Homo sapiens: one gene and its partners. The protein of the gene in region 5 interacts with the protein of the main gene of each other region in a pairwise test. Each region holds a gene or a part of one and is shown on either strand. Other genes may lie near its edges.

Region 1 (5,316 bases), on a different chromosome or scaffold from region 5:
GCCATGCCTTTATTTTATGAGTGGCAATGGCACAGATAGGAATGTCAGCCCAGATGTGGATTAAATTTAAAGATAAGTATGTTGGCTGGGTGCGGTGGCTCACGCCTGTAATCCCAGCACTTTGGGAGGCCGAGGTGGGCAGATTACAAGGTCAGGAGATCGAGACCATCCTGGCGAACACGGTGAAACCCCGTCGCTACTGAAAATACAAAAAAAAATTAGTTGGGCGTGGTGGTGGGCGCCTATAGTCCCAGCTACTCAGGAGGCTGAGGCAGGAGAATGGCGTGAACCCGGGGGGCAGAGCTTGCAGTGAGCCGAGATCACACCACTGCACTCCAGCCTGGTCGTCAGCGAGACTCCATCTAAATAAAAAAGATTGTATGTTGAAGAACCAAGGGGTAGAAGTTACAGAGATGCTCCGATCGTTCAGCATGTGGAAGAACTATCAGATAGCTAGAACTGTCCAAACAGCAACAAACTTCCCCTTAAGAGTAGTGAGATCCCTGTTAATATTCAGAAGGTGATTAGAAAATGCTGGTTAGAGATGATATAGAAAGTTTTACTTTTTATAAAAAAAAAATCTCTAAAATATATTAGACTAAGTAAGATCTGTCAGAGTTCCTGCTTAGACTTTGTTTAATCCAAAAGGAGTATAGGATTGAGCAGGATGTTTCATGAGCTTTAGTCTAGTATGGAAAAGTAGATGTTTTTCTGTGGGATTCCATAATGCCCCTTGAGCTTTTTTGTTTGTTTGTTATTCCTTTGGAATGTTTTCTTGTCATTAAAGTACAAAATCAACAGGTGTATAGTTTTATGTCAATTTTATTGCAGTATAATTTACATATAATAAAATCTACACATTTACGTATATAGTTTTGGCAAATATATGTGTAACCACCACCATAATCAAGATAGAGAAGATTTCTCTCACTCCAAAAAGTTGCCTCGTAGCCCTTTGCAGCAGCCCACTCCCAGGCCCAGGCAGCCAGTAAATATTTTCTTCACTGTAGATTGGTTTTGCTCTCAGATTAATGTTTAAAAATTGGACACCAGGTCGGGCGTGCTGGGTCACGCCTGTAATCCCAGCACTTTGGGAGGCCGAGGCGGGCTGATCACCTGAGGTCCGGAGTTCAAGACCAGCCTGACCAACATGGAGAAACCCTGTCTCTACTAAAAATACAAAATTAGCCAGGCGTGGTGGCGCATGCCTGTAATCCCAGCTACTCCGGAGGCTGAGGCAGGAGAATGGCTTGAACCCGGGAGGCAGAAGTTGCTGTGAGCTGAGATCGAGCCATTACACTCCAGCCTGGGCAACAAGAGTGAAACTCTGTCTCAAAAAAAAAAAAAAAAAAAAATTGCACACCAAACATGGACATACCACATTTTTTCCCCCTCAAAAAAGGGTAAAATATCTATTGCCATCTTTTATCATTTCCATTTCCTAAAAGGGATTTTTTTAAAAATGTTTTTTATTTTTGAGACAGAGTCTTACTCTGTCACCCAGGCTGCAGTGCAGTGGCACCATCTCAGCTCATTGCAAACTCTGCCTCAAGTGATTCTTGTGCCTCAGCCTCCCGAGTAGCTGTGATTACAGGCACCTGCCACCACGCCTGGCTAATTTTTGTATTTTTAGTAGAGATGGGGTTTTGCCATGTTGGCCAGGCTGGTCTCAAACTCCTGATCTCATGTGTTCCTCCTAAAAGGGCATTTTAATATGAAATAAGAAAGTGAGCTATGTAACTTTAGGATAAATTAAATTGATATGTTTTACTTTATGTAAAACTCACAACACCATCCTTGGCTGATGTAGGATGGTGAAAACTTTGTTATGGAGCAGTGTTTGGGAACCATCGTAGATGACTGGAAAGGTCTCTTCAAACCGTAAGATTTCAACATCATGAAATAGGTTGTCTGGAAAGGAGAACAGGCTAGAAGTTAGGAATCTTTCCCAAAAGCCATTTTTTTAAGGCTGGAATAGAAAAAGCTAACCACTCTTGGGCCTCACCTCTTGTCTTCTCTCTCCAATCTCTCCCCTCTCCTCATCGTGAACTGTAGAAGAAGCGTGTGGAGGGCCCTGGCTCCCTGGGCCTGGAGGAATCAGGGAGCAGGCGCATGCAGAACTTTGCCTTCAGCGGAGGACTCTACGGGGGCCTGCCCCCCACACACAGTGAAGCAGGCTCCCAGCCACATGGCATCCATGGGACAGCACTCATCGGTGGCTTGCCCATGCCATACCCAAACCTTGCCCCTGATGTGGACTTGACTCCTGTTGTGCCGTCAGCAGTGAACATGAACCCTGCACCAAACCCTGCAGTCTATAACCCTGAAGCTGTAAATGAACCCAAGAAGAAGAAATATGCAAAAGAGGCTTGGCCAGGCAAGAAGCCCACACCTTCCTTGCTGATTTGATATTTTTGGTCATGGAGAAGGGTGGGATTGGGTGGGAATGGGGTGGAAGGGTGATGGGGAGCTAATGAACTAGGGAGAAAAACTTTCCATGTGTGCGGTATCGTCTTTCAGAATGTCTCCTGGCATCCTAACCATGTAATATGACAATTGGGGGTGGGGTTGAAATAGCCCATAAAGACCTGTCTTCACAACACTTGCATTGTAGAGAAAGGCTTCTTATATCCTTTTCAATAGACTGCCCTGGCTCTTTCCTAGGCCTTCCACTACCTCCTTTCTTTCTCCCACTTTCTAGGATCATTTTTATGTAAAGTCACATATCCCAGGCCCTCAGGTTGAATCCAGAGCTGTAGAGGTTACAGTAGCATCACCAGCCTTGGGGGTCCAGAGCCTAATTTATATTCACTATCCTTCCAAGTCCCGGGTAGCAGAAGGGTTGCCATAGATCTCAGTTTGATCAAAAAGAAGGCTTAGAATTCTGCAGTTAAGCTGAGGTTTAAACTAAAAAATGTTTCCTTGGGTCAGTGGTTTTGAGGTCCAGTAGCTAGGCTTTTCTCTTTTGTCCTTCCTGTTGGAATGAAAACATTTCGATTTTCCTTCATCTGTGACTGGTGCCATAGACACAGGTTTATAGTTTTAACTTACAGTATTGTTTGAAATTTACCTGTTTTTCTTGTCAAACCTGAGCACTCCTCCTGCTGAAGTTTCTTATTTAATTCCAGAGTACTGTCCTCTACTCTAAGGCATTACTTTTAAGTGTATTATGAAGGCAGTTTTCAAAGGATATGACCAGTTGGGGTAATTCAAATTAAAAAGGAAAAGATTTGTTTGGAAGTAACTGGTGTCTCTAAGAGGAATTTTTAGATGTCAGTTTGGAGGCTCTTTCCCCCCTCAATTGAGAGCTCTTGTTATTCAGAGCTCCAAGACTAGACCTGGCTAACAAACATAGGAGACAAAGTTAGGAAACATTGATACAAGCTTTGTACAGAGATTTGTACATTTGTGTAATAGGCCTTTTCATGCTTTATGTGTAGCTTTTTACCTGTAACCTTTATTACATTGTAAATTAAACGTAACTTTTGTCATTTGGGTGCAGGCTGTGAATTTGTCTCTCAGTCACTGATTGCCACTGCCATCTGGAAATGTTTGCTAAAGGCACAGTCACTGGGCTTGGGAGGCAATGCTCCATCCCCATTATATTACAAATAAAGATGCCCTAAATGAGTGTGGAAATTCTAATGAGAGAATGTAGTCCCCAGACTGAAGCCTCACAAAGCAGCGTTGGTTCGGAAGTGCTTGGTGCCCTTCATCAGGAGACCTCATGACGGGAGACGGGGCTTTAGGGCGTTTGCATAAGCCCTATCACCCACCCTGCAGTTAGAGCTCTGTGCATTTGAGCCATAGCTTGGTGACACAGGAGCAAACGGAAGCTAAAGGTAAGTAAGTTTAGGAGGGATTTCAGCAAGAATTTGAATTGAAGGAATATGCCTGCATACGGAATCTCATTTGCAGTAAGTATACTGTGTTTGTGAGACTTACATGTGGCTTTGAGATGAAGATGCCAGCTAGGTTCCAGATCCTTGGGTCAAGTGCAGACTCGTAGGAGGAGCAACCTTCTGAAGAACAGAAATTCATAACATCAGCTGTGCAAAGAGTTGACTTCCCCACAGGGTCTGTAAAAATGAGTGTCTCCCTCTCCCCCTCCCCCTCCCCCTCCCCCTCTCCCTCTCCCCACGGTCTCCCTCTCATGCGGAGCGGAAGCTGGACTGTACTGCTGCCATCTCGGCTCACTGCAGCCTCCCTGCCTGATTCTCCTGCCTCAGTCTGCCGAATGCCTGCGATTGCAGGCACGCGCCGCCACGCCTGACTGGTTTTGGTGGAGACGGGGTTTCGCTGTGTTGGCCGGGCCGGTCTCCAGCCCCTAACCGCGAGTGATCCGCCAACCTCGGCCTCCCGAGGTGCCGGGATTGCAGACGGAGTCTCGTTCACTCAGTGCTCAATGGTGCCCAGGCTGGAGTGCAGTGGCGTGATCTCGGCTCACTACAACCTACACCTCCCAGCCGCCTGCCTTGGCCTCCCAAAGTGCCGAGATTGCAGCCTCTGCCCGGCCGCCACCCCGTCTGGGAAGTGAGGAGTGTCTCTGCCTGGCCGCCCATCGTCTGGGATGTGAGGAGCCCCTCTGCCTGGCTGCCCAGTCTGGAAAGTGAGGAGCGTCTCTGCCCGGCCGCCATCCCATCTAGGAAGTGAGGAGCGCCTCTTCCCAGCCGCCATCACATCTAGGAAGTGAGGAGCCTCTCTGCCCGGCCGCCTATCGTCTGAGATGTGGGGAGCGCCTCTGCCCGGCCGAGACCCCGTCTGGGAGGTGAGGAGCGTCTCTGCCCGGCCGCCCCGTCTGAGAAGTGAGGAGACCCTCTGCCTGGCAACCACCCCGTCTGAGAAGTGAGGAGCCCCTCCGCCCGGCAGCCACCCCATCTGGGAAGTGAGGAGCGTCTCCGCCCGGCAGCCACCCCGTCTGGGAGGGAGGTGGGGGGGGTCAGCCCCCCGCCCGGCCAGCCGCCTCATCCGGGAGGGAGGTGGGGGGTCAGCCCCCCCGCCCGGCCAGCCGTGCCGTCCAGGAGGGAGGTGGGGGGGTCAGCCCCCCGCCCGGCCAGCCGCCCCGTCCGGGAGGTGAGGGGCGCCTCTGCCCGGCCGCCCCTACTGGGAAGTGAGGAGCCCCTCAGCCCGGCCAGCCACCCCGTCCGGGAGGGAGATGGGGGGGTCAGCCCCCCCACCCGGCCAGCCGCCCCGTCCGGGAGGGAGGTGGGGGGGTCAGCCCCCCGCCTGGCCAGCCGCCCCGTCCAGGAGGGAGGTGGGGGGGTCAGCGCCCCGCCCGGCCAGCCGCCCCGTCTGGGAGGTGAGGGGTGCCTCTGC
Region 2 (6,108 bases), on a different chromosome or scaffold from region 5:
TTCCGGGTAAATGCAGAGCTACAAGCACGCTCTAACATCTGGGTGGTAAGTGTGCTACAGCATGACCAGGCATAATTCATTCTCCCTAGCCTGTGAACAAGTCTGCCCGGTGGTGTGCTAAAGCTCATCAACAGCCTAACCAAATAGGGTCAGAGTGTTTGGAGGCTGAGGGTACAGAATAGAAATGTGTGAACTGCTTGATTCAGAAGACCAGGTATGGCCTCATCTGCAAGCTAGTGGCAGATGAAATGAACAGTGTGCATGCCTGCAGGGGTAGAGCTCTTCCGGTTCTACTTATTGGCAGCAGCTACTGGCATAACCCCTGGTGGGCATGCACATAAGCCTTCAGATGGATCTGCTGTTCCCTTTGCTCAAACTTGAATCCGGAGGATGGAGGATGAAGCAATGTTATAACCTGTTCCCTAGAAAGGAAAATTACTCTGTTTTCATTTTCCTTGAGTACTATTTTTAGCTGTTTTTTACAATCTATTATGACATAAACAAGACTATAGTATGTAGGAACCATGAGGTAATTTCCCCATTGCTAGTTACAAGTGTATTGTGTTTGTTTATGGACTCTGCAACTAAGGACGTAGGTACCTTGGAGGAATTTTTTTCCCCCTCCAAACCTTGTTTTTTTTTTTTTTTTTAAAAAAAAAAAGATGTACTGGATCTTTTTAACCTGTTATAAAAGTAATACGTGGGCCAGGAGAAGTGGCTTACACCTGTAATCCCAGCACTTTGGGAGGCTGAGGCAGGTGGATCACTTGAGATCAGGAGTTTGAGACCAGCCTGGCTAACATGGTGAAACCCTGTCTCTCCTAAAAATACAAAAATTAGCCGGGTGTGGTGGCACAGGCCTGTAATCCCAGCTACTTGGGAGGCTGAGTGAGGCAGGAGAATCACTTGAACTAAGGAGGCAGAGGCTGCAGTGAGTGGAGATCATGCCACTGCCCTCCAGCCTGGGCAACAACAGAGCAAGACTCAGTCTCAAAAAAAAAAAAAAAGTAATATGTGGTCAATGTAGAAGACAGACAAGAAGGAGAGAGGAGAGGAAAGTCACCTGCAGCAACCATTAATATTTTGGTGTATTTCCTTCCCTGTGTTTCCTTGCATGTAGGTTTTATTGTTGGTTTGTTTTATTCGTGGCAAGCATACTATATATAATATTCTGCTCTTTTCCACTTAACACCATAAATGTAAGCATTTTCTATGTTGCTTCAGACTTTGTAAACAGTTTAATGACTATATATTCCATTAAGCGAATTTCACAGTTTACGGTTGCTCACTCGTTGGATTTTTAGGTTGCTTTGGGGGAGTCTAAATAGCCACAAAGATGAACAAAGGGTTAGAGAGCTCAAATGCCACATCCTTCATGAAGCTGGTCCAGTTCACCCCCGGCTGGAGGTTCTCGCCCTCTGCTTGAAATACTTGACTCCTTTAATCTGTACCTCTCATATGGCACACTACTGTTTACATTGCTCTGTAGTTGTGAGCAAGGCTGTATCTTTCTGTACTAGGTTGTATGCTCCTCATAGTCAAGGTCCATGTCAGTTTTGTCTCAGCAACCCGGACAACATAATACTTTTGTATATAATAAGTACTCCATAAATATTTGTCGAATGAATGAATACTGAGTGACAAAAAGAAATCTAAGAAAACATTTCTAGGTGAGAGGCAGTCACATCCAAAAACTGGTTTCTACATATAGAAAAGAATATTCTGCAAATCATGGTTATTAAATATCCTGTCTGTTAAGGAAAGAACAGGAAGTAGACATAAGTAAACAAAACTATAGAAGATTTAGGTTAGCTTTATGGAAGCAGAATAGATTTTTTTTTCTTTTTTTTTTTGAGGCGGTGTCTCGCTCTGTTTCCCAGTCTGGAGTTCAGTGGCACGATCTCAGCTCACTGCAACCTCCGCCTCCTGGGTTCAAGCCATTCTCCTGTCTCAGCCTCCCAAGTAGCTGGGATTACAGGCGCTTGCCACCACACACGCCTAATTTTTTGTATTTTTAGTAGAGATGGGGTTTCACCATATTGGCCAGGCTTGTCTCGAACTCCTTGTGATCCACCCACCTTGGTCTCCCAAAGTGCTGGGATTACGGGCATTTGCCACTGCACCTGGCCTGGAATAGATGTTTTAAAATGAGATCTCAGGCCAGGCGTGGTGACTCATGCCTGTAATCCCAGCACTTTGGAAGGCTGAGGCAGGCACATTGCTTGAGCCCAGGAGTTCAAAACCAGCCTGCGCAACATGGCAACACCCCATCTCTACCAAAAAAAAAAAAAAAATTTAGCCAGGCATGGTGGTGCATTCCTGTAGTCCCAGCTACTTGGGAGGCTGAGGCGGGAGGATCATCTGAGCCTGGAGGTCCAGGCTGTGGTGAGCCATGATCGCACCACTGCACTCCAGCCCAGGCAATAGAGTGAGACCCTGTCTAAAAGAAAAAAAAAAAATTTAAATGGGTTATCAGCTGTTTTTGTTAGTTTAAGTACAACTCTGGCCTGTAGATGGAAAACATGAATTAGTTACCATTACAAGTGTTCTTTGAGCCCCCAAAGTTTATATTTTGTCTTTAACTTGCTTTTTTTTTTTTTATCATGTGTTCATGTTATGTATTTGTTTCCACAGGCAGGAGATGCTGCATGCTTCTACGATATAAAGTTGGGAAGGAGGCGGGTAGAGCACCATGATCACGCTGTTGTGAGTGGAAGATTGGCTGGAGAAAATATGACTGGAGCTGCTAAGCCGTACTGGCATCAGTCAATGTTCTGGTAATAGTGGTGTGCCTTGGAGACCCAACTGATTACAACTCAGTATCTCTAGGACCATAACACAGAGTTATGGTTTGGTTTTATTATGAGCCAGTTAGCTTCATACAGAAGGGAAAAAAGTCCATCTTATGTCCACACATTCTACCCTCAGGTAGCCATCTGGCAGAAGTGTCCTGTTTAGTTTTTCACCAAACTGATCCTTTTGTAAAACATTAAAAGAGAAAAAAATTATTTTAAGTGTTCTGTCTGGCGTATGTTAGACTAGGTGAATGAATGGAGATGGCACCAGCACTTCCGGCAAAATAGGTCAGAGGCCGAGGTGGGCGGATCACGAGGCCAGGAGTTTGAGACCAGCCTGACCAACATGGTGAAACCCCGTCTCTACTAAAAATACAAAAATTAGCTGGACGTGGTGGTGCATGCCTGTAATCCCAGCTACTCGGTAGGCTGAGGCAGGAGAATTGCTTGGACCCAGGAGGTGGAGGTTGCAGTGAGCCGAGATCACACCACTGCACTCCGGCCTGGGTGACAGAGCGAGACTCCGTCTCAAAAAAAAAAAAAAAAAAAAAAGGAGTGTCAGAAAGCATTCCAGTCCTAAAAGATGAAGGCTGGTCTGGTATGGTTGCTCATGCCTCTAATCCCAGCACTTTGGGAGGCCAAGGCCGGGGGATTGCTTGAGCCCAGAAGTTCGAGACCAACCTGGACAACATAGCAAGAGCTCGTCTGAATTTTTTAAATAAAAAGTTTTTAAAAGTTAAAAAAAAGAAAAGTGGAGGCTAAGGGGAAATACTGTAGGTTAATGAAGCCATAAAACATCTCAAATTCTGAATTCCATAAATGTGGAACACTCTTTAAAGCTTCAAAAAGGGAATTTCAAGACAAAAGTAGTGAATAGCAAAAGTGGGAACCTCATCACTTTCCAAATGTGGCATGGGATAAAAGCACGAATAAATTCAAGAACGTTTCAATCACCGCATGGATATGTGGTCGTGTATAATGGCTTTTTAAGGAAAAGTCAAAGCTATTAGGGTTAATCTTACTTTCTCATGGTCATCCCTAGATGCTCTAGCAACAGCAGATCAGTTGGCATCTCTCGTGATCTGCATACTAAGTTCTTTGGTTGGCATAAGAGTGCGGTGTTGGTCGGGTGCGGTGGCTCACATCTGTAATCCCTGCACTTTGGGAGGCCAAGGCGGGCAGATTACTTGAGGTCAGGAGTTCAAGACCAGCCTGGCCAACATGGTAAAACCCCGTCTCTACTAAAAATACAAAAATTAGCCAGGGTGGTAGTGGGTGCCTGTAATCCCAGCTACTCAGGAGGCTGAGGCTGGAGAATCACTTGAACCCAGGAGGGAGAGGTTGCAATGAACTGAGTTCGCACCCATTGCACTCCAGCCTGGGCAACGAGTGAAACTCCGTCTCAAAAAAAAAAAAATGCAGTGTCATGGAGAATATGTGCTACCGTGTCATTCCTTACAGTCCCTTGACAGAACACCCTCTTCTCTCTTCTTAGGAGTGATTTGGGCCCCGATGTTGGCTATGAAGCTATTGGTCTTGTGGACAGTAGTTTGCCCACAGTTGGTGTTTTTGCAAAAGCAACTGCACAAGACAACCCCAAATCTGCCACAGAGCAGTCAGGTAAGAAAGTCCTAGCACTCCTCTTGGAGAGTGTTGAGAAGCAGTGGTCCAGATTCTCCTGAACAAGGGGTTTCTGTATTGGCCAGAGGGGCTTGTCAGTGAAAGCCTCTCTTCATGTTGTGCTTTAAAAGAAACCAAACCCCAAGTCCTCACTCTTTAGTGGTCTGAGATTTGGCAAAATCAGGTATCCTGGTCAAAGCATAGATTCAAATATTGTGGGTATCTGTCCTAGACAGTGGACAGTGGCTAGCTCAATGACACTGCTGTTTTGTGTGTCTCTGGGAAGACCTTTCTAAGGAAGAAAACAAGAAAACCTGAACTTTTTAGATTGCGTTTTTATTTTTCTTTCTTTCAGTTGTCATTTTTATTATTTTGCTTCAGGCGAATCTCAAGAACACGGCCTGATAGGCTTAGCTTAAGACTGGCTATCCTCCATGGGTCCTGCGCAGGGAGGAACTGGGCTGAGTAGTTATTTAGCTGCCTCCCATTCCATTTGGCAGATCTTAGTGCCAGGTTTTCTTTAGATGGGAGGCACCTCTCTTGGAATGGACTTCTCTCCCACACATGTCTCTTTCATTAACTCCGAGACCTTATTCCTTGACCTTAGCTCAAGTTATTTAACTTCTGCATCCTTTTGCCAGAGGTGTCTCAAGGGCAAGGTGCTGTTTAAGAAGGAGAAAGCAAGACATTATATGGATATGTAGGTCCTTTTCCTGTGTAATTCTAATGTATTCCATATTCCTTAATTCTGATCTCTCCTAGTAACCTAGTAAGTGGATTCATGTCACTGCTTTGTCGACTGGACAGTATTATTTGGAGGCTGGTGGTTCTCAGCAAGGTGCCCCCTTCCTATGCCACCCTTCCCTTCCCCTCTTTCTCTAGGAAGAAATGCCTCCACTATGGTTTTTCCAAATGGAAGTGCCTTCTGCTTTGTCTAAAGTACCTGTCTAATAGCACTGTCCAATAGAACTTTCTGCTGCGATGGAAATGTTCCATCTCTGCTCTGTCCAGTACGTTAGCCACCAGCCACATGTGGCTTTTGAGCTCATGAAACATGGTGAGTACAGATAAGGAACTGAATTTTACATCTTACTCAGTTTGAAATGATGTTCATTTACATGGCTGTGGCTAGTGGCTACTGTATTTGGACCATGCAGCTCTAGAATTATTTCTTAGAGGACAAGAACCAGCCTTCTGCAGTTTGAAGAAATCCAGATACCAGGAAATATTCATAGCATGAATTTAAAATGAGATAATAAGGGAGGGAAGTTTAGGGTCAGACTGACCCTGTGCCCAGGAGCTGGCAAGGAAGACCTTTCCTTGGCTTTGTCACTGGAGAGGGGCTGGTGAAGGCCAGGGTTTACTGAGGGGGCATAGAGAAATAAATCCTCTAGAAGTAGCTTGAAGCAGGCCTCGAAAGACTGTTGGCTTCTAGAATTTCCCAAGCTCATAATAACTGAAGTTTTGATTTTGCTTCCATGTTTATTTGTTTTGGGGGCTGGCCACAGGAACTGGTATCCGATCAGAGAGTGAGACAGAGTCCGAGGCCTCAGAAATTACTATTCCTCCCAGCACCCCGGCAGTTCCACAGGCTCCCGTCCAGGGGGAGGACTACGGCAAAGGTGTCATCTTCTACCTCAGGGACAAAGTGGTCGTGGGGATTGTGCTATGGAACATCTTTAACCGAATGCCA
Region 3 (6,618 bases), on a different chromosome or scaffold from region 5:
ATGCCATTAAGTAGGAAAAGGAATAGGAGACAAGGAACAGGTGTTTTTTTTTTGAGACAGAGTCTCACGCTGCCACCCAGGCTGGAGTGCAGTGGCACGATCTTGGCTCACTACAACCTCCGCCAGGGTTCAACCTCTCCCGGGTTCAAGTGATTCTCCTGCCTCAGCTTCCTGTGTAGCTGGGACTACAGGCATTTTCCACCATGCCCGGCTAAGTTTTTGTATTTTTAGTAGAGACAGGGTTTCACCATGTTAGCTAGAATGGTCTCGATCTCAGGACCTCGTGATCTGCCCACCTCGGCCTCCCAAAGTGCTGGGATTACAGGCATGAGCCACCGTGCCTGGCCAGGAAAAGGTTTTAATGAATTTTATTTTCATTAAAATAATGAGTTCAGCTTTGGTCACATTGAGTTTGAGGTGTCCTATATTTAGATGTAATAAATCAGGGTGCCAAAGCCTGAGGCCCAGTCTTGTGATCCAGTGTTCATTCCATTATTAGAGTTGCCTCCAATAGGAAGGGTGGTAGCTTAATAGCTCTCTCTTTGTATTGAATGAAGATTTAAAATGTTGGAGTCTCACCCTGTCGCCCAGGCTGGAGTACAGTGGTGTGATCTCAGCTCACTGCAACCTCCACCTCCCAGGTTTAAGCAATTCTCCTGCTTCAGTCTCCCGAGTACCTGGGACTACAGGCGTGTACCACCACTCCCGGCTAATTTTTTTGTATTTTTAATAGAGACAGGGTTTCGCCATGTTGTCCAGGCTGGTCTTGAACTTCTGACCTCAAGTGATCTGCCTGTCTCGGCCTTCCAAAGTGTTGGAATTACAGGTGTGAGCCACTACGCATGGCCCCCTTTGGTTTTTTTGTTTTTTAGAGACAGAGTCTTGCTCTGTCGTCCAAGGCTGGAGTACAGTGGCATGATTTCAGCTCATTGCAACCTCTGCCTCCTGGGATCAAACGATCCTCCCATCTTAGCCTCCTGAGTAGCTGCAACTACATGCATGCCACCACACCTGGATAATTTTTCTTTCCTCCTTTTTTTTTTTTTTTTTTTTTTGGCAGAGACAGGGTTTCGCCACGTTACCCAGGCTGGTCTTGAGTTCCTGGGCTGAAGTTATCTGCCTGCCTTGGCTTCCCAGAGTGTTTTTTATATTTCTTCCCATTTGTATTTTTGATTAATGTTCTTCTGAATTCTTCATATCAAGGAGAAGTGGCATATAATATATTAAAGTGTGGGCACCATTCATATAGACCTGAGGTTTTTTTTTGTTTGTTTGTTTGTTTTGAGACAGACTCACTCTGTTACCCAGGCTGGAGTGCAGTGGGGTGATCTTGGCCCACTGCAACCTCCACCTCCCAGACTCAAGCAATCCTCCCACCTAAACCTCTGGTTTTTTGGAGTTTTTTTATAGAGACAAGGTTTTGCCATGTTGCCCAGGCTGGTCTTGAACTCCAGGGCTCAAGTGATCCGCCTGCCTCGGCCTCCCAAAGTGCTGGGATTTACAGGCATGAGCCACTGCGCCCAGCCAGCATGTCTTTTAATCCAAGATTCCTCATTTGTAAGATGAGATTGTTCTAAGAATTAATTGGGGGGAGGCCAGATGCAGTGGTTCACGTCTGTAATCACAACACTTGGGGAGGCCAAGGCTGGCGGATCCTTTGAGCCCAGGAGTTGGAGACCAGCCTGGGCAACAGAGCGAAACCTCATCTCTACAGAAAATACAAAAATTAGCCAAGCATGGTGGCACATGCCTGTAGTCTCAGCTACTTGGGAGGCTGAGGTGGGAGGATTGCCTGATCTTGGGAGGTTGAGGCTGCTGTGAACTGCGACAGTGCCACTGCACTCCAGCCTGAGTGGCAGAGTGAGACCCTGTCTGTAAAAAAAAAAAAAAAAAAAAAAAAAAAAAAAAGAATTTATTGGGGGAATGCAGGTAAAATATATTGAAAAGGCACAATAATATTAGCAGTTGTTATTACACCTAGAAATAGACCAAATCTAATTGAAATAATGGAACCACTGTCTATATGAGTAAGTTTTTGTTTTTCTTTCTTTTTTTCTTTTGTCCTATAGAAGTCATTGTGGTTACAACCAGGGATGTTCAAAAGGCTCTATGTGCAGAATTCAAGATGAAAATGAAGCCAGATATTGTGTGTATTCCTGATGACGCTGACATGGGAACTGCAGATTCTTTGCGCTACATATATCCAAAACTTAAGGTGAAAAGCAATTTTTTGACTCTTCTTGTTTATTGAAGATAGATGATATCTTATGTTTTCCCAGTGCATTATAGTCTTTTTTTTGAGACAGAACCTCGCTCTGTCACCTAGGCCGGAGTGCAGTAGTGTGATCTCAATTCACTGCAACCTCCACCTCCCGGGTTCAAGCAATTCTCCTGCCTCAGCCTCCCAAGTAGCTGGGATTACAGGCATACGCCACCGTGCCTGGCTAATTTTGTATTTTTAGTATAGATGGGATGTTGGCCAGGCTAGACTCGAACTCCTGACCTCAGGTGATCCACCCTCCTCGGCCTTCCAAAGTGCTGGGATTACAGGCGTGAGCCATCACGCCTGGCCCCCAGTGCATTATAGTTTACAAAACTTTATTTCTGATATATTTTTACATCACATACTTTGTTACCCATGTACTCTTCAGTTGCTCTTTGATTTGGTTACTAGTAAAGATTTAGACATTAATTTGTCATAGTCACTGGTTTCCAATGTTTTTGAGTAATAGCACATTTTTATTAAAAAAGAAAAAAAAGACATACTCTAGGCCAGGCACAGTGGCTTATGCCTGTAATCCCTTTGGGAGGCCAAGGCAGGTGGATCACTTGAGGTCAGGAGTTTGAGACCAGCCTGGTCAACGTGGTAAGACCCTGTCTCTACTAAAAAGACAAAAATTAGCTGGGCATGGCGGTGCACATCTGTAATCCTAGCTACTGGGGAGGCTGAGGCAGGAGAATCGCTTGAACCCAGGAGGTGGAGGTTGCAGTGAGCCGAGATCATGCCACTGCACTCCAGCCTGGGCAACAGAGTGAGATCCCATCTCAAAAAAAAAAAAAAGATATACTCTAAATGTACTTCAAAAGATTCCATTCATATGAAGTTTGTGAACAAGCAATGTTAATGTATAAATCAGAGGAGCAGTTGACTCTGCAGGTGAGGATTGACTAGAAAGAAGTACAAAGGAACGTTCAAAAATTCATAGACCTCCCATGTAATATTTGAACTTTTAGTTAACCTTTGGTTAAGAAACTAAGGAGCACATAGATATGAGAACATAGTCTCCCCAATGGTTTGTGGCCCATGAGCTGAGAAAGATCCACTGTAGATTGTTCTAAAATTGTTTTTCTTTGGAAAAAATTCAATCGTTGTGATGTTGCCATATTACTTGAAATGGGAGACAAACTTTCTTCTGTTATTTCTGGTGATTAAACGGATGTGTTATTTTCAACCGACTTTTGTACTATAAAACAAAAAATTAATGCAAATATGTACATGGCTTTCCCACCCCTTTTATTGAGGAATAATTTATACACAGTAAAATGCACAGATACTAAATATACACCTAGATTACCATTATCCAAATCTAGAACAATTCCATCACCCCTGAAAGTTCCTTTGTGCTTCTTTCTAGTAAGTCTCTGATCTTCTGAGTCAACCACTCTTCTGTTTCTATCACTATGTATTAATTTTATTTGCTTATAAACTTCATATAAATGGAAACATACAATTTTGTTCTGGCTTCTTTTGTTCAACATATTTTTCAGATTCTTTCATGTTATTGAAAGTATAACTAATCTGTTCCTTTTCATGCTTAGTAGTATTCCATTGAATGAATATACTACTATTTATTTATCTATCCTCCTATTGACAGTTATTTGGGTTGTTTCTAATTTTTGGCTATCATGCATAAAGCTATTATGAGCATTGTTCTGCAGGTCTTTTTGTGAAAATATTCTATAGGCTGTAAGGTTTACTTTATTGGAAACTAGCAGTTTTCTAAAGTGATTGTACCATTTTATACTTTCATCAACAGTTTGTAAGAGTTGCGTTTGCTTCACGTCTTCATCAACACTTGGTGTTGTCAGTCTTTTTAATTTTAACCATTCTAGTAGGTATGTATGTAGTGGTATCTCATTGTGGTTTTAATTTACATTTCCCTGATGGTAATGATGCTGAACACCTTTTCATGTGTTTATTGGCCATTTATATATGTTCATGAAGTGTCTGTTCAAAGCATTTGTCTATTTTTTAATTGAGTTGTTTGCCTTTCCATTATTGATTATAGGAATTCTTAATATAGTCCAGATGCAAGTCGTTTGTGAGATATGTGTTGTGAATATTTTCCACCAGTCTGTGGCTTTTTATTTAATGGTGTCTCTTGAAGAAAAGTTTTTAATGATGATGAAATCCAAATTACTGATTTTTTCTTTTATGGTTATTGCTTTTTGTGTCCGGCCTAAGAAATCTCTGCCCATCTGACCTTTGTGTAGATGTTCTTCTATGGTTTTGTCTTTGTTTTGTATTCTTTTTGAGACAGAGTCTTGCTCTCTCACCCAGGCTGAGTGCAGTGGTGCAATCTCCACCTCCACTGCACCTCCTCACCGCACCACCTCACTGCAGCCTCCACCTCTCAGGTTCAACTGATTCTCGTGCCTCAGCCTCCTGAGTAGCTGGGATTACAGGTGTGTGCCACCACACCTGGCTAATTTTTGTAGTTTATAGAGACAGGGTTTCACCATGTTGGCCAGGCTGGTCTCGGGCTCCCAGGTTCAAGTGACCTACCCACCTTGGCCTCCCAAAGTGCTGGGATTACACACATGAGCGACCTCACCCAGCTCAGATTTGACATCTTAATATTGAATCTTTTGATCCTTGAACATCGTATATATAGTAATGTGCCACATAACGATTTTTGGTCAATGACTGGCCACATATGTGGTCCCATAAGATTGTAATACCATATTTTTACTGTACCTTTTCTATGTTTAGATATGTTTAAATACACAAATACTTACCATTGTGTTACAGTTACCTATGGTATATAATAACATACAGGTTTGTTACCTAGGAACAATAGGCTATACCATATAGCCTAGGTATGTAGTAGGCTATACTATCTAGGTTTGAGTAAGTACATTCTATGATGTTCGCACAACGAAATCACCTAACAATGCATTTCTCAGAACATACCGGATTTCTCAGAACATATCGCTGTCATTAAGTAACACATAATTGTGTATCTATTTATTTAAGTTTCGCTTAATTTCTCTCAACTGAGTTTTGTAATTTTCAGTGATGATTTTTTTTTTCTTGAGACAGCCTTGCTCTGTCGTCCAGGCTGGAGTGCAGTGGTGTGATCAAGGCTCACTGCAGCCTCAACCTCCTGGGCTCAAGTGATCTCCACATCAGCCTCTCAAGTAGATGGGACTACAGGCACATGCTACCATGCACAGCTAATTTTTTAGATTTTTATTTTAGTAGAGATGTCTCACTGTGTTGCTCAGGCTAGTTTCAAACTCCAGGGCTCAAGCTGTCCTCCCACTTCAGTCTCCTAAAGTGCTGGGATAACAGGCATGAGCCACCACACCCAGCCCAATGTAGAAATTTTGAACATGTCTTGATAAATTTATTCCTAGGTAAATATTTTTAATGATATTGTAACTGGTATTTTTTCTATTTTCAATTGTTTATTGCTTGTACATAGAAATACAATTGATTTTTGTATTTTGGCATTATGCGCTGTGACCTTTTAAATTATAGATTCGTTTAGGACCTTATCATCATATTGCCTGCAAATAAAAACAGTATTATATCTTCCTTCTTAATCTTTATTCTTTTTAAAAATTAAATTACATTAATTTTATTTTTTGAGACAGTCTCACTCTGTCACCCAGGCTAGTGTGCAGTTGTGTGGTCACAGCTCACTGTAGCCCCAAACTCCTGGGCTCAAGCAGTCCTCCCACCTCAGGCTCCCAAGTAACTAAGTAACTAGGACTACAGGCATGTGCCACCATGCCCGGCTAATTTCTTTTTTTTTCTTTTTTTTTTTTTTAGACCAGGGTCTTACTTTGTTGTCCAGGCTGGAGTGCAGTGGCTCGATCACGGCTCACTGTAACCTCGACCTCCCCAGGCTCAGGTGATCCTCCTACCTAAGCCTCCCAAGTAGCTGAGACTACAGGCATGCACCACCACACCTGGACTTTTTTTATATATAGAGAGAAAGGATCTCACTGTATTGCCCAGGCCTGGTCTGGAACTCCTGGACAGAAGTGATACCCCCAACCTTGCCCTCTCAAAATGCTGTGATTACAGGCATGAGCCACTATGCCCAGCTCTTTAAAAAAAAAAAAAATTGTCTCATTGCCCTGGCCAGGACCTCCAGTACAATGTATATAGGCATTTCCATTCACTTTTGGCCTTCCTTCTACTTTTCTGTATTTTCTCTCAAGTGGATTTTGGGTGCTTCTGATTAGAGTGGGGGCTTCCAATACAATAATGTGGGGTGTGTTGCTTTCTGGAGTACCGCTGATTATTTGTTTAGAGAATATTTGGGGAATTCCATTAGGGTAATGAGAAGAAAATTTGGGTCAAGTGTACAGTTCAGTGGTATTAAG
Region 4 (6,618 bases), on a different chromosome or scaffold from region 5:
TGAATAACTCTGTGTGTGCATGTGTGTGTATATGTGTGTTATTGTATTATTTACAGAAGGTAGAGTCTTTCTATTTCTGCCAAGTTATCATATTTCTCCAGTGGGCTCTGAGGTGCTTCTGGCCTCTCTTCTTGCTGTAGGTATCATAGGACTATGGATGAGCATCCCATGGCTTGGGCAGAAAGTTCTCTCAAGAGTTCTGCGTTCTCCATGAGAATTTCCAAATTCTCACAGTAATCTAATTCTCAACAACCTAAATACTTCTGATATTTGTAAGTAACTGTTGAAAATGCAGGTAAATTTTAACTTGGAAAGAAATATATTGTAATTTAAAAGTTCTGAATCAAAAAAATAATTTGCCCTTTTAAACAATTGAAATGAAAAGTTTCTGCCAAAGTGACAGAAAGAAGGCTTTCAGCCAGCCTCTGGGGAAAGCTCAAAGACTTCCACTTTGGTTTACTTTACACCTAATAATTTTAAATGACATTTGAGTACATTATGAAAGATATAGTAGCACTGATGTACCAGTGCCCAACTCAAAGAACTCTGAAAAGACTTGCAAACCTATGAGTCTAGACTGGCTTCTTTTACCATTCACACCCAATTAAAAGCGCAGGAAAAGCCTCAGAATCAGTAGAAACTTTTCTGCGTGACCATTCATGAGGTATTAGGTTGGTGCAAAAGTAACTGCGATTTTTACTTTAAGGGCAAAAGCCATGATCACTTTTGCACCAATCTGATATAATAAGAATTTAGCCTCAGGAGGAAGAACAAAGCACCTTATCTTATATTGTAGAAAGTGCTGGAGATGGTGAGTAGCTAATCTAGGCTTGTGATTCAGGGAAAAAATTAAGGTTCAAAATATTAATTTTAATTGATAAGTGAAATATGCTTCATCCATATGTTGGAATCCAAAGTCATCAATTTTTAAAAACAACACTTATTTACATTCCCACCAACAGTGTAAAAGCATTCTTATTTCTCCACAGTCTTGCCAGCATCTATTGTTTCTTGACTTTTTAATAATTGCCATTCTGACTGGCTTGAGATGGTATCTCACTGTGGTTTTGATTTGCATTTCTCTAATGATCAGTGATGTTGAGCTTTTTTTCATATTTGTTGGCTGCAGAAATGTCTTTTGAAAAGTGTCTGTCATATCCTTTGCCCAGTTTTTGATGGGGTTTTTGTTTTGTTTTGTTTTGTTTTGTTTTTTATAAATTTGTTTAAGTTCCTTGTAAATTCTGGAAATTAGTTCAACCATTGTGGAAAACGGTGTGGTGATTCCTTGAGGATCTAGAACCAGAAATACCATTTGATCCAGCCATCCCATTACTGAGTATATACCCAAAGGAATATGAATTATTTTAATATAAAGACACAGGCACACATAGGTTTATTGCAGCACTATTACATAGCAAAGCCATTGAACCAACCCAAAAGCTTATCAATGATAGACTGGATAAAGAAAATTTGGTACATATATACAATGGAATACTAGGCAACCATAACAAGGAATGAGATCATGTCCTTTGCAGGGACATGAGTGAAGCTGGAGGCCATCATCCACAGCAAACTAACACAGGAACAGGAAACCAAACACCGCATGTTCTCACTCATAACTGGGAGTTGAACATTGAGAAGACATGGACACAGGGAGGGGAACATCACACACCAGGACCTGTTGAGGGGTGTGGGGTAAGGGGAGGGAACTTAGAGGACCAGTCAATAAGTGCAGCAAACCATCATGGCACATGTATACCTGTGTAACAAACCTGCACATTCTGCACATGTATCTTGGAACTTAAAGTAAAATTAAAAATAAATAAATTTAAAAAAACACTAATAAGAGACAGCATATACAATGCCACAGAAAAGGAGAAAAATTCACGGGCAAGGATATCATCTCAGATATTTTTCAATGAGGAAAATAAATTAGAGAAAAGAATAATCTCAACCCCTTATATACATGAAACGTTTTATTGTTCACACTAAAGAGAATGTTGAAACACCTAAACTAATCTAGTACTACCTCTGGAAAAAAAATTATCAGCCTATGATCATAGGACATTACAACCATTTTTATGTGAAGTATAACACACCACTAACACAGCAGATGGAGCTCAATAACTGCCAGGCAAGTTGCTGCAGCCATGATATGGTGTAGCCATTGGGAAGTGGGTCGTCCTGGAGCTTGGACTGAAACTTTCTCAAGGGTGTTTTGGCCAAGTGACCATATTGACACTAGGCTGTCACAGGTGGCTTCAAGTTCTAGGAGAGTCTTTCTAATGATATCTTGGGATTTTTGATTCACATCAAATGTGAGCATTTCCTATTATGAGTGAGTGTAAAGACTTCACCATATCCTAAGATTAGAGGATTTTTAGCACATGCGAATTTATCATTGTGTTTGATATGTATCACAGGTGTGCTAGCTCTACTTCTGGGATTCACTCTTTGTTAGATCAATAAATAATGGAATAATAAGATGATAGTGATGATTATGACAATGATTTTAAAAAGATCAGAGATGTTGGTTGTTGTGTATGCGTCTAAATAGAAACAGTAAACATATACTTGTATAGGTAATTCATTCATCATGTCTACTCAAATTGGTCTTGTGTACAGCAGTATCATTGCTGTGGTTGTTTCTAATATTGTCAGGAATTTTGAAGATGGCTGTAGTTGTCGATATTACCAAGTGATGCTATCAGCAAGACAGTAGGACTGTGTTCAAATGCATGCCTTCAAAGTTCTTTTGCTTCCATAATTTCTGAGTCATACTTAGCAAATGGTTGTGAAGTCTTAAGTGAAGAACTGTTGCGTTTTGTCAGTGAATACGTGATTGATTGCAGAAGAGCACTTATTTCAATGGCTGTTGGTAAGAATAGATAAAATTCTACCCAAGATAATTGATATGAATCTTCCTGAAATCTAACATTCCAGAAATGGAAAGTGGAGCCTTTTCATCAAGGGTTCAATGAATCTTCCTTTCTGACTTAGGTTAATGCCACCTTCTTCTCTTTCTCTGTTTATTCCTAGAATGCAGGCTCAACAGTACCAGCAGCAGCGTCGAAAATTTGCAGCTGCCTTCTTGGCATTCATTTTCATACTGGCAGCTGTGGATACTGCTGAAGCAGGGAAGAAAGAGAAACCAGGTAAGCAGTAGGGTTCTGAAGGCAAGATGCTTCATTGATTAATGTCCATCTAGTCTAATTACCTGCTTTTCCTTCCTCTCTTCTACTCTGCCTCTCTCCCTTCCTATTCCTCTATTCCTTCAATCTTCCCTTTTCAAAAATAATTACTTAGAGGAACCTAAGAAATATCCTGTCTTATTTTTCTCCCATTGTAAGTCTTGGATTGCATGACGATGATGATCATTAATATAATGATCAAATTAGCAGCTACTATGTATAGAACATTGACCGGTAATCAGGTGCTTTATTATTTACCTCTCTACCTCAAAAAAAAAAAAATGCACTGCAACTTGTTTTTCTCCTTAATTTCAGATTTACAGAGGAGGAAACAAGCACAGAGAAGATAAAGCACCTTCTCTATGCCACTCCCAAAGTCATAAGTAGGCTGTGGAACTGACAGTCTGTTTAAATCTGTGATGCACCATATTTGTATGATGTCATTCCTTCTACAAGGCAGAGAAAGGAACAACAACTTACACTGAAATGGCTCATTTGACAACTGTTATTTCTTTTTTTTTTTTTTTGAGTTGGAGTCTCGCTCTGTCACCAGGTTGGAGTGCAGTGGTGCGATCTCAACTCACTGTATCCTCTGTCTCCCGGTTCAAGTGATTCTCCTGCCTCAGCTTCCCGAGTAGCTGGGGCTGCAGGCATGCACCACCACGCCCAGCTAATTTTTGTATTTTTAGTAGAGTTGGGGTTTCACCATGTTAGCCAGGATGGTCTCGATCTTTTGACCTTGTGATCTGCCTGCTTCGACCTCCCAAAGTGCTGGGATTACAGGCATGAGCCACTTTGCCCAGCTGACAACTGTTATTTCTAATAGAATATTTTCTTCATTTTTAGGAGAACTATATTTTTGACCATCTCTTCTTTTATAGAAATGTTTGCTTCTAAAAGGAGATGCCACTAAATCACTTAGCACAGTCTCTGGCACATAGTAAGAGGGAGTTCAATTAATATTAGTTTTAGCTCTTTTCTCAGTTTTCTTTCTCTCTTCTCTTGATCATTCATTGGTTCAATAATTTGGTTAATATTCATCATGTTTCTACTATTCATTAGACAATAAGGATACAGATTAAAAAACACAGATCCTGCAATTAAGGTGCTCAGGAATGAACTTGGTTATATCTGGAAGTTAAGGAGTTTTCTGTATGTTGATTAGGTTTTCCTCCTTTCATTCAGAAAAAAAAGTGAAGAAGTCTGACTGTGGAGAATGGCAGTGGAGTGTGTGTGTGCCCACCAGTGGAGACTGTGGGCTGGGCACACGGGAGGGCACTCGGACTGGAGCTGAGTGCAAGCAAACCATGAAGACCCAGAGATGTAAGATCCCCTGCAACTGGAAGAAGCAATTTGGCGGTAAGCCTCATGCTACTGAGTTAATCTCCTACTCTGAGATAATTCTCAAATTTTTCCACCAAATGTCTTTTTAAGGATAAGTACTTTTTATTTTAAATAACTTTATCTTACCAGACACAAAGTGACCAGACTGGTCCCATTTCAGGCCAGGCAATTATTTGTTGTGGAGGCTGTCTTGTGCATTTTAGGGTATTTAGGAGCATCGCTGGCTTCTACTCGCTAGTTTCCGGTAGCATTCCTCACCCGCTCCAGATGTGAAAACTAAAAATGTCTCCAAATATCTATGGCCAAATGTACCCTGTTGGTCAAAATCATCCCTGGTTGGGAACCACTGCCTTTCCAAAGGGACATAAAATATATCCTTGATTCCTCTGAATAATGTTAATTGATCTGTCTTCTCTCTCCTTTCTTCTATTTCTAAGTTCCTTTGATTTTTCCTTTCCCCTTTTCTTATTTATTCTCCTGCTTCTCCATGTTTCTCCCTGTCACTTTCAGACCTTCTCTCCCATTTGATCCCTCCCCAACCTCCACACAGTTTCACAGATTCACTTACTGAGTTCAGCAGGGCTGCTCACAGCCACGTTTCATAAATCTTTCTCCCACTGACTGGAGTCAGTCTTATGCTGGCCTGATCTATCTATCTGAGACAGGATCTCTCAACACTTTCAACTTTATATCCAGTATTGAACCCTCAAATAACCTCTTCCACAATCCAGACTTTTTGTCTTTCTTAGCCATAGTGGGACATGATGCCTGAAATGTCCTATCTGTGTTCTATGGAAATGCATTGTGGCCCATAGACAAGTGAGGAAGGATAATGGATGTATACATGTATGTCTTTTTCTCCCTCTGTAATCTTTGGGGTATTTTTTATTTGAATGGATATAGACAAGTTCTATAAAAGTGTGATGGAGAACAGGTACATTTGGTCTTAAATTGTATATGGGCACCTTAAAAACCCACTTACAAAAAGTTTAAAAGGTATATCTTAAAGACTTACATTGAGAATATTAAATAACTCTCAAACTCAACAGTAAACAACAAAACAACAACAACAAAAAACAAAACAAACAAAACCTAACAGTTCAATAAGAAAGTGGGGAAAAAACATTAACAGACATTTTACCAAAGAGGATATATAGGCAACAAATGAACTCCTGAAAATATATTCAGCATCTTTTCCTTATTAGGGAACTAGAAATTGAAACCATAATGAGATATCACTCTACATCTATCAAAGTGGCTAGAATAAAAAATAGTGACAAGACGAAATGCTAGTGAGGGTGCCAAGAAACCAGATCCCTCATATGTTGCCAGTGGAAATTGTAAGGTGGTACAGCCACAGTGGAAAAAGAGTATTGCAGTTTTTTACGAAATGAAACATGCATTTACCATGTAACACAGCAGTTTCTTGGTAATTTATCTCAGAGAAATGAAAACTGATGTTTCCACAAAAACCTATACATGAATTTATATAGCAGTTCTATTTGTAGTAACCCAAGGCTGGTAACAACTCGGATGTCCTTCAGCTGATGAATGGTTAAACAAACTGGGGTACATTGGGACCATGGAATACTACTCAGCAATAGGAAGAAACAGACTATTGATGCACATGACTTGGATGGATCTTCAGGAAATTATGCTAAATAAAAAAGCCAATCTCAGAAGTTTACATATTGTAGAATTCCATTTATGCAACATTTTTAAGCTAGAAAAATGATAGAGCTAGAGAACAGATAAGGAGTTGCCGGGGATTAAGGAGGTGGGGAAGGAGGAAGGTGGCTAGGCCATGACTATAAAGAATGACCCACTGTTGTATTGGGACTGTATATTAATAGTGTATATTAGTGTGTATTAATGGTGTATATTGATGGTGATCGTATGCATCTACACATGTGATAGAATTGAACAGAAATCAATACACACGCATACACTCTGTATTATTTCTTATAGCTGCATATGGATCTATAATTATTTCAATAAAAAAGTTACAAACAAAAGTGTGCCTTTATTATCCTGGAAGTACGATAGGATCTTTCAAGGATTTCTGTTTGGTTCTACCCTGCCT
Region 5 (5,217 bases):
CCGGCGGCGCGTGGGGTCTTACGGATCCTGTCGCCTCCACATGCTGGGGCCGGCACCCCCACCACCCCGAGACCCTCGCCCACCCTCCCCCTCCTCTGGCGCTTCCTCTGAGAACTGAACCTGATTCTCGGTGGTCGGTGACCCTCAACAATACACGCCCCTCATTCTCTGGCTAGATTTAATCTGATGCGGGTTATCTGCTCCGACCCCGCCCTTCTTCCAAAATATACTTTTCTGATGTAATTTTGTGGTTGATTTAAATCAGAGACTTGGGTAGTGGAAAGGGAGGGAAGAGGCTTTGCACGCTGCAGCCTGACAGTTAACTCCCTCCGTCTGCCCCTTCCGAGAGAGGACTGGGGGCCACATTCGGTGAAGGGCTGCAAGCTTCCTCCCGGGCTGCGGGAATTCTAGGGGATTGGGTGATACCTCACCCGGATCCCTAATTAAAAGGAGCCTGCAACCTCTGATAGTGGCGTTTCTGAAGGCTCGCCCCCAGCTGACTCCACTCCTAAGCCTGCTCGCCAACCGCAGCTTCCCTAGCTGGTATTTTAATGCGAAGGGTTGGGAGGCACTGCCTTAATAGGAATTTTGTTTTGATTTTTAGGTGTTGAATCATAAAGCTGAATTGAAACTGCTTTTTAGATGCTGTCATTTGGGGGTCAGGAAGCAAATGGCTGTGATTTAATAGCAGCAACTTCTACAGATCAAGTAGAGAAGGGTACTTCATTGATGAAGTACAGTCTTCGACTCAAAATTTTATTTTTGTCTGTGGGTTTAAAAAGCGGAAATATATTTTGCTCTCAAACTAAGTATTCCCACAAATACTTTAATAAAATGGAAAGGATGAAAAGGAGGAATGCTCAGACCAGCCTTCTGGTTGTAATTTTTGTAATTTTTCGGCTCTTTTCTACAAATATTTACAAATAGAGATATTTTTCATGAGTAGATTAAAGGACGAAATTTTGTTTCCCAGGCTTTTTAGGTCCTGAAATAGTCATTACTAAGTCTTTTTTCCTCCTTAAATTTTCCTTTAGTTGTTAACTTTTATTTCAAATGACCTCTCTGCATTGCCCAGCATGGGTTAGAGTTTTGTATATATTTGTATGTGATTTTCCTTTTAGCGGAGATCCAGCACTGTTTGGTCAACGCTGGCGATGTGGGGTGTGGCGTGTTTGAATGTTTCGAGAACAACTCTTGTGAGATTCGGGGCTTACATGGGATTTGCATGACTTTTCTGCACAACGCTGGAAAATTTGATGCCCAGGTAAAAATCCATCCAGAGCATGAAGAATGTTTGGGGTGAGCATACATGATTGAAACGTTCATTGGAAAGCCTTGTTAACCAACTTCCTTTGCTGTTCCTTGTGGTGTGTTTTAGTGCTTGCAAGCGACAGTCTAGGTATAAAACATTATGCCAGTGTCTCCCTTCTGCACTCATAAGCTGTGTCTACACAGGCAGGGTGGACTGGAGACCAATGTCATAATAAACGATAAACACCTTGTAAGGGGACACGCTGTGTCTGGCCACCCAGAACTCAGTCTCCAAAGCCCACTGCATGAGAGGCAGGGGCAGGAACCCCCAATTATACATTTCAGAAGTCATTTCACCTACTAGGAAAATGAGACACAAAGTATGTAGAAATCCGTCATGTGGTGTGTGGGCAGCCAACCCGAATAACTCAGGACCTCCAAAAGAGCAGACTTCTATTCCTCCTGAGTAGCAGATCTTTCTCTCCCAAGCTGACCGGTCGAAACCCTGATTGAGTCCTTCAGTTCCACACTTTCCTTTTGCTCTATATGATAAATATAGTCAGGGCCTGACCCACTTCGGTTATCCCAGGGTCCCAAGGGGAACGCGGAGTTGCTGCTCAGGGCAAGGCAGGAACACAACAAGCAACATATGGCTCCAGTGCCAACAACGCAAATACATTTTTAGATGGCATGTGGCATCAGACTCACCTTCTTCGTGTTCTCCCTGGCCACTTATATGCCCTGTTGAAACGCCCTGTTACTATATCTCAGAAACGTCTCTCCTGCTTCATTGGAGAGCAATGCCAACATTTGGAGGTGGCCATCAGCTTAGGTGAGATTTATGGATGTCACCAGTCCCCATCCACTGACATATAGTAGTGAGCCTGACAAAGCAGTGCCTGGGAACAAGGAGGGGAGGCGAAGACGGGGCTGGCAGCCTAAACTGCAGAGGATGTGCGGTGTGGCCAGAGGGGAAACTGAAACCAGGGAAGGAAAGAGGTAGAACTTTGAACTCCTTGAGGCTCCCTAATAAAGCATCACTCTGGATTAACGGGAATTAGGAAACGTAATAGGAAATCCGGAGGAAAGACGTGTATTTAAGGGCAATCCCACAGGATGTCAGGGAAGAATACCAAGAACAGATTGCCACAGCCCTCGCATAAATTCATCTTCCTCTTTTTTTTCCCAACCAACAGGAATACGTTCTCAAGTTAGAGACATCCCTTTCAAGTTGATGCTCAGCACATAACTGCTTAATAAACGGGCACACCCTGCCCTCCATTCTGTTTGGCTCTGGCTGGAGAGTCAAAAGAGAGGGGGCCACGGGGAGGCCATGCGGGCCACATGGTTTTTCAGAGATCAGACGCTATCTGTAGACATTTCTATGGCTGCTAAAGACAAAACCAAAATAAATGTGCTGGCTGGCTTCCCACTTCCAACCTAAACCCATTTACTTTCTCAACTCAGTGACTTCCGGGCCTGTCTAAAAACAGAGGGGTGACCTCTCCGACGACAGCTAGTTTCTATAGTAATGTGGGGTGCGGGGATTCCCGGGTAGGCATCCCACAATGCCTCCGGGCTGCGCGAGGTTGATAAGGGAGCAGCACCGAGCTCGCCTCCACACCCCCAACAGCTGTCTCCTTTCTAGGATAAGCACAATCAGACGGGGTTGCCAGGAAAGAGAACTGCAGGCCAGATGTATGCCTGGCTGCCTTCGCCACTCGGAGGCAGGGAGCGTGGGGGAGGGGCCGCCAGTGCGGCAGTTCAGACTCCAGATGCTGCCAGGCAGGGTGCCAGGCCAGCCTTTTAGAGGCAATAATCCGAACAGTTTAAAGGAGTAGAGTCATTTTCAAAAAGGAAAAGAGCGCTCTTCCTGGTAGGGTAGGAGGAGACAAGGGTATGGATTTGGGGCGTGGGAGGCACGGAGGCAGAAAGGGAGGTACAATCAGCAATCAATCTCGGTGTCGCCCCTGGAATCAAGGGAAAAAGGAAACGTGTGAGATTTGGACATGCAGGCACCTTCCACTTAGGGAAGACTGCTTGTGAGAACCGTGAGGGATTTATGGATTTGTGTCTGGCCAAATTCCCTTTGTGTTCCAGAAAAGTTGCCACCACACAACCAACACAGGGCTACCTGAGGGACACATAGCCACGGAAGCCCCCGTTGGAGGGAAACTCACAGAGTAGCCAGGGAGGAAGGAGGGAGATGTGTTCGTCTACAGAATGAACATCCCTTGTTGCCCAGTGCTGGGGGTGTCATGTCACTCTGGACGTGCCTCCGGATGTCGCATTGCCTGTCACCTGGGAGGACGTCCGTCTCTGGTGGGGCCTTGGGGTTCTGATGTCAGAAATATCCTGTGTAAGCCCAAGAAGGGCTGAAATGTCCAAGCATGTAACGAGGTCTTCTGCTTTCTGCCCCTCTCTCCCTTCCCCGGCCTGTGTGTTCTCAGGGCAAGTCATTCATCAAAGACGCCTTGAAATGTAAGGCCCACGCTCTGCGGCACAGGTTCGGCTGCATAAGCCGGAAGTGCCCGGCCATCAGGGAAATGGTGTCCCAGTTGCAGCGGGAATGCTACCTCAAGCACGACCTGTGCGCGGCTGCCCAGGAGAACACCCGGGTGATAGTGGAGATGATCCATTTCAAGGACTTGCTGCTGCACGAGTGAGTACTGCCCCGCAGAGGGCCTGGGTGAAGGGGCCACCCAGCAAGGATGGCAATGTGTATGGGAGGAGAGCCGCGTTGCTTCTAGAGGCTGAATGCCTGTCAAATGGAGAAGGCTTCCATTTACTTCAGAAAGCTACACTGACTCTACTAAAAGGCCCCTTTCCTGCTGGCTTTTAGGAAAAGAGAGAATTCCCTCATCAGTCTCAAAATCACAAGCAACAGAAATGGGAAATCGTTTTACTAAGAATGAAATGTGTCGATTCAGTAATACTCTTCATCTTCCCCTTAGCCAAGAACCCACTAGCTCTCAGAATATTCTGAGTAGCTGTAGAGGTGTCCTTACAGACAGCAAATTGCTAATAACATTTGTTGAATATTTACTAAGCGCCAGGCACTGGGCTAAGGGCTCCTTGTGAATTTTTCACTTGATCCTCACCACAGCCCTCGTCACCTCCATTTGACAGATGAGAAAACTGAGACTCACTAAGGCAGAGCTCACACAGCTAGTGACAGGCAAAGCCAGACTTGGGACCTGGCTCCAGTCTGCTGAGCAGTCTGCCTCCAGAACCTATACTCTTAAATCCCGAAAACAGAGCTATAGATGCTTTTCCTGCCTCCTTAACTTTCCTTTCCCTTAGAAGGTTCGGTTTACCTTCTCTCATACATTAGTGCCCTCTCAGAGGAAATGCAAAACAAGTGCCAAAAACTTTAATCAGCTAAACACTTCTATGCCAAAACAAGGAAATGTGAACTTACTTATTTCAAGACTTGAAATTCAATGATAAATTCAGGATGCATCATTTCTTACAAAATATTTCAGCCACAGGATCCTAAATTTTGCAGCATGGTAAAGCATGTTGGTACACAATTGTTCCTAACATGAGGCAGGGCCAGGAGCCCCTGAAGATTTTTTTTTTAAATATTGACAATGGCTCTTTCCTAAGAGACACAGGGCAGAAAGAAAGCCACTAGCCAACCAGTTCAGTACAAGTCATTACCAGTTTGATGGCACTGTTGGTCTCTCCACGGTGACTCATTGAGCCAAATCGGTATAATTTTATGAACTCTTGATCCTCAGTTTGTGCCACAACCTTCTTCCAGTTATGTCCCTACCACACCAACACCACTTAGATGACAGAGAACAGCAAGCACCTCCTGTCTCTTTCCACTTGGTTATAAGGTCATAGGCATCTTGCAACACCCTTGCTACAGTGTTAGAATCATACAATTCATGGCGAAACTCTGCAGGAAGCTCTTGCCAAAAGCAAAACAATATTGCATTTTCCTCGAATTAGGCTAAC

The links.
Region 1: the proteins of STC2 (region 5) and PPP1R8 interact in a two-hybrid assay, tested with the Homo sapiens proteins (one large-scale study listed by BioGRID and IntAct).
Region 2: the proteins of STC2 (region 5) and AIFM1 interact in a two-hybrid assay, tested with the Homo sapiens proteins (one large-scale study listed by BioGRID and IntAct).
Region 3: the proteins of STC2 (region 5) and EIF2B3 interact in a two-hybrid assay, tested with the Homo sapiens proteins (one large-scale study listed by BioGRID and IntAct).
Region 4: the proteins of STC2 (region 5) and PTN interact in a two-hybrid assay, tested with the Homo sapiens proteins (one large-scale study listed by BioGRID and IntAct).

The regions. Positions count from the first base shown.
Region 1 is NC_000001.11:27,848,038-27,853,353, forward strand, and holds the end of PPP1R8 (nuclear inhibitor of protein phosphatase 1), read left to right. Parts: intron 1-2,055; coding exon 2,056-2,409; 3' UTR 2,410-3,639; downstream 3,640-5,316. UniProt on the Homo sapiens protein: Inhibitor subunit of the major nuclear protein phosphatase-1 (PP-1). It has RNA-binding activity but does not cleave RNA and may target PP-1 to RNA-associated substrates. May also be involved in pre-mRNA splicing.
Region 2 is NC_000023.11:130,129,982-130,136,089, reverse strand, and holds part of AIFM1 (apoptosis-inducing factor 1, mitochondrial isoform AIF precursor), read left to right. Parts: coding exon 1-45; intron 46-2,634; coding exon 2,635-2,777; intron 2,778-4,290; coding exon 4,291-4,415; intron 4,416-5,923; coding exon 5,924-6,108. UniProt on the Homo sapiens protein: Functions both as NADH oxidoreductase and as regulator of apoptosis.
Region 3 is NC_000001.11:44,973,912-44,980,529, reverse strand, and holds part of EIF2B3 (translation initiation factor eIF2B subunit gamma), read left to right. Parts: intron 1-2,069; coding exon 2,070-2,215; intron 2,216-6,618. UniProt on the Homo sapiens protein: Acts as a component of the translation initiation factor 2B (eIF2B) complex, which catalyzes the exchange of GDP for GTP on the eukaryotic initiation factor 2 (eIF2) complex gamma subunit.
Region 4 is NC_000007.14:137,251,396-137,258,013, reverse strand, and holds part of PTN (pleiotrophin isoform 1 precursor), read left to right. Parts: intron 1-3,039; 5' UTR 3,040-3,040; coding exon 3,041-3,155; intron 3,156-4,376; coding exon 4,377-4,550; intron 4,551-6,618.
Region 5 is NC_000005.10:173,321,915-173,327,131, reverse strand, and holds part of STC2 (stanniocalcin-2 precursor), read left to right. Parts: intron 1-1,121; coding exon 1,122-1,264; intron 1,265-3,701; coding exon 3,702-3,913; intron 3,914-5,217. UniProt on the Homo sapiens protein: Has an anti-hypocalcemic action on calcium and phosphate homeostasis.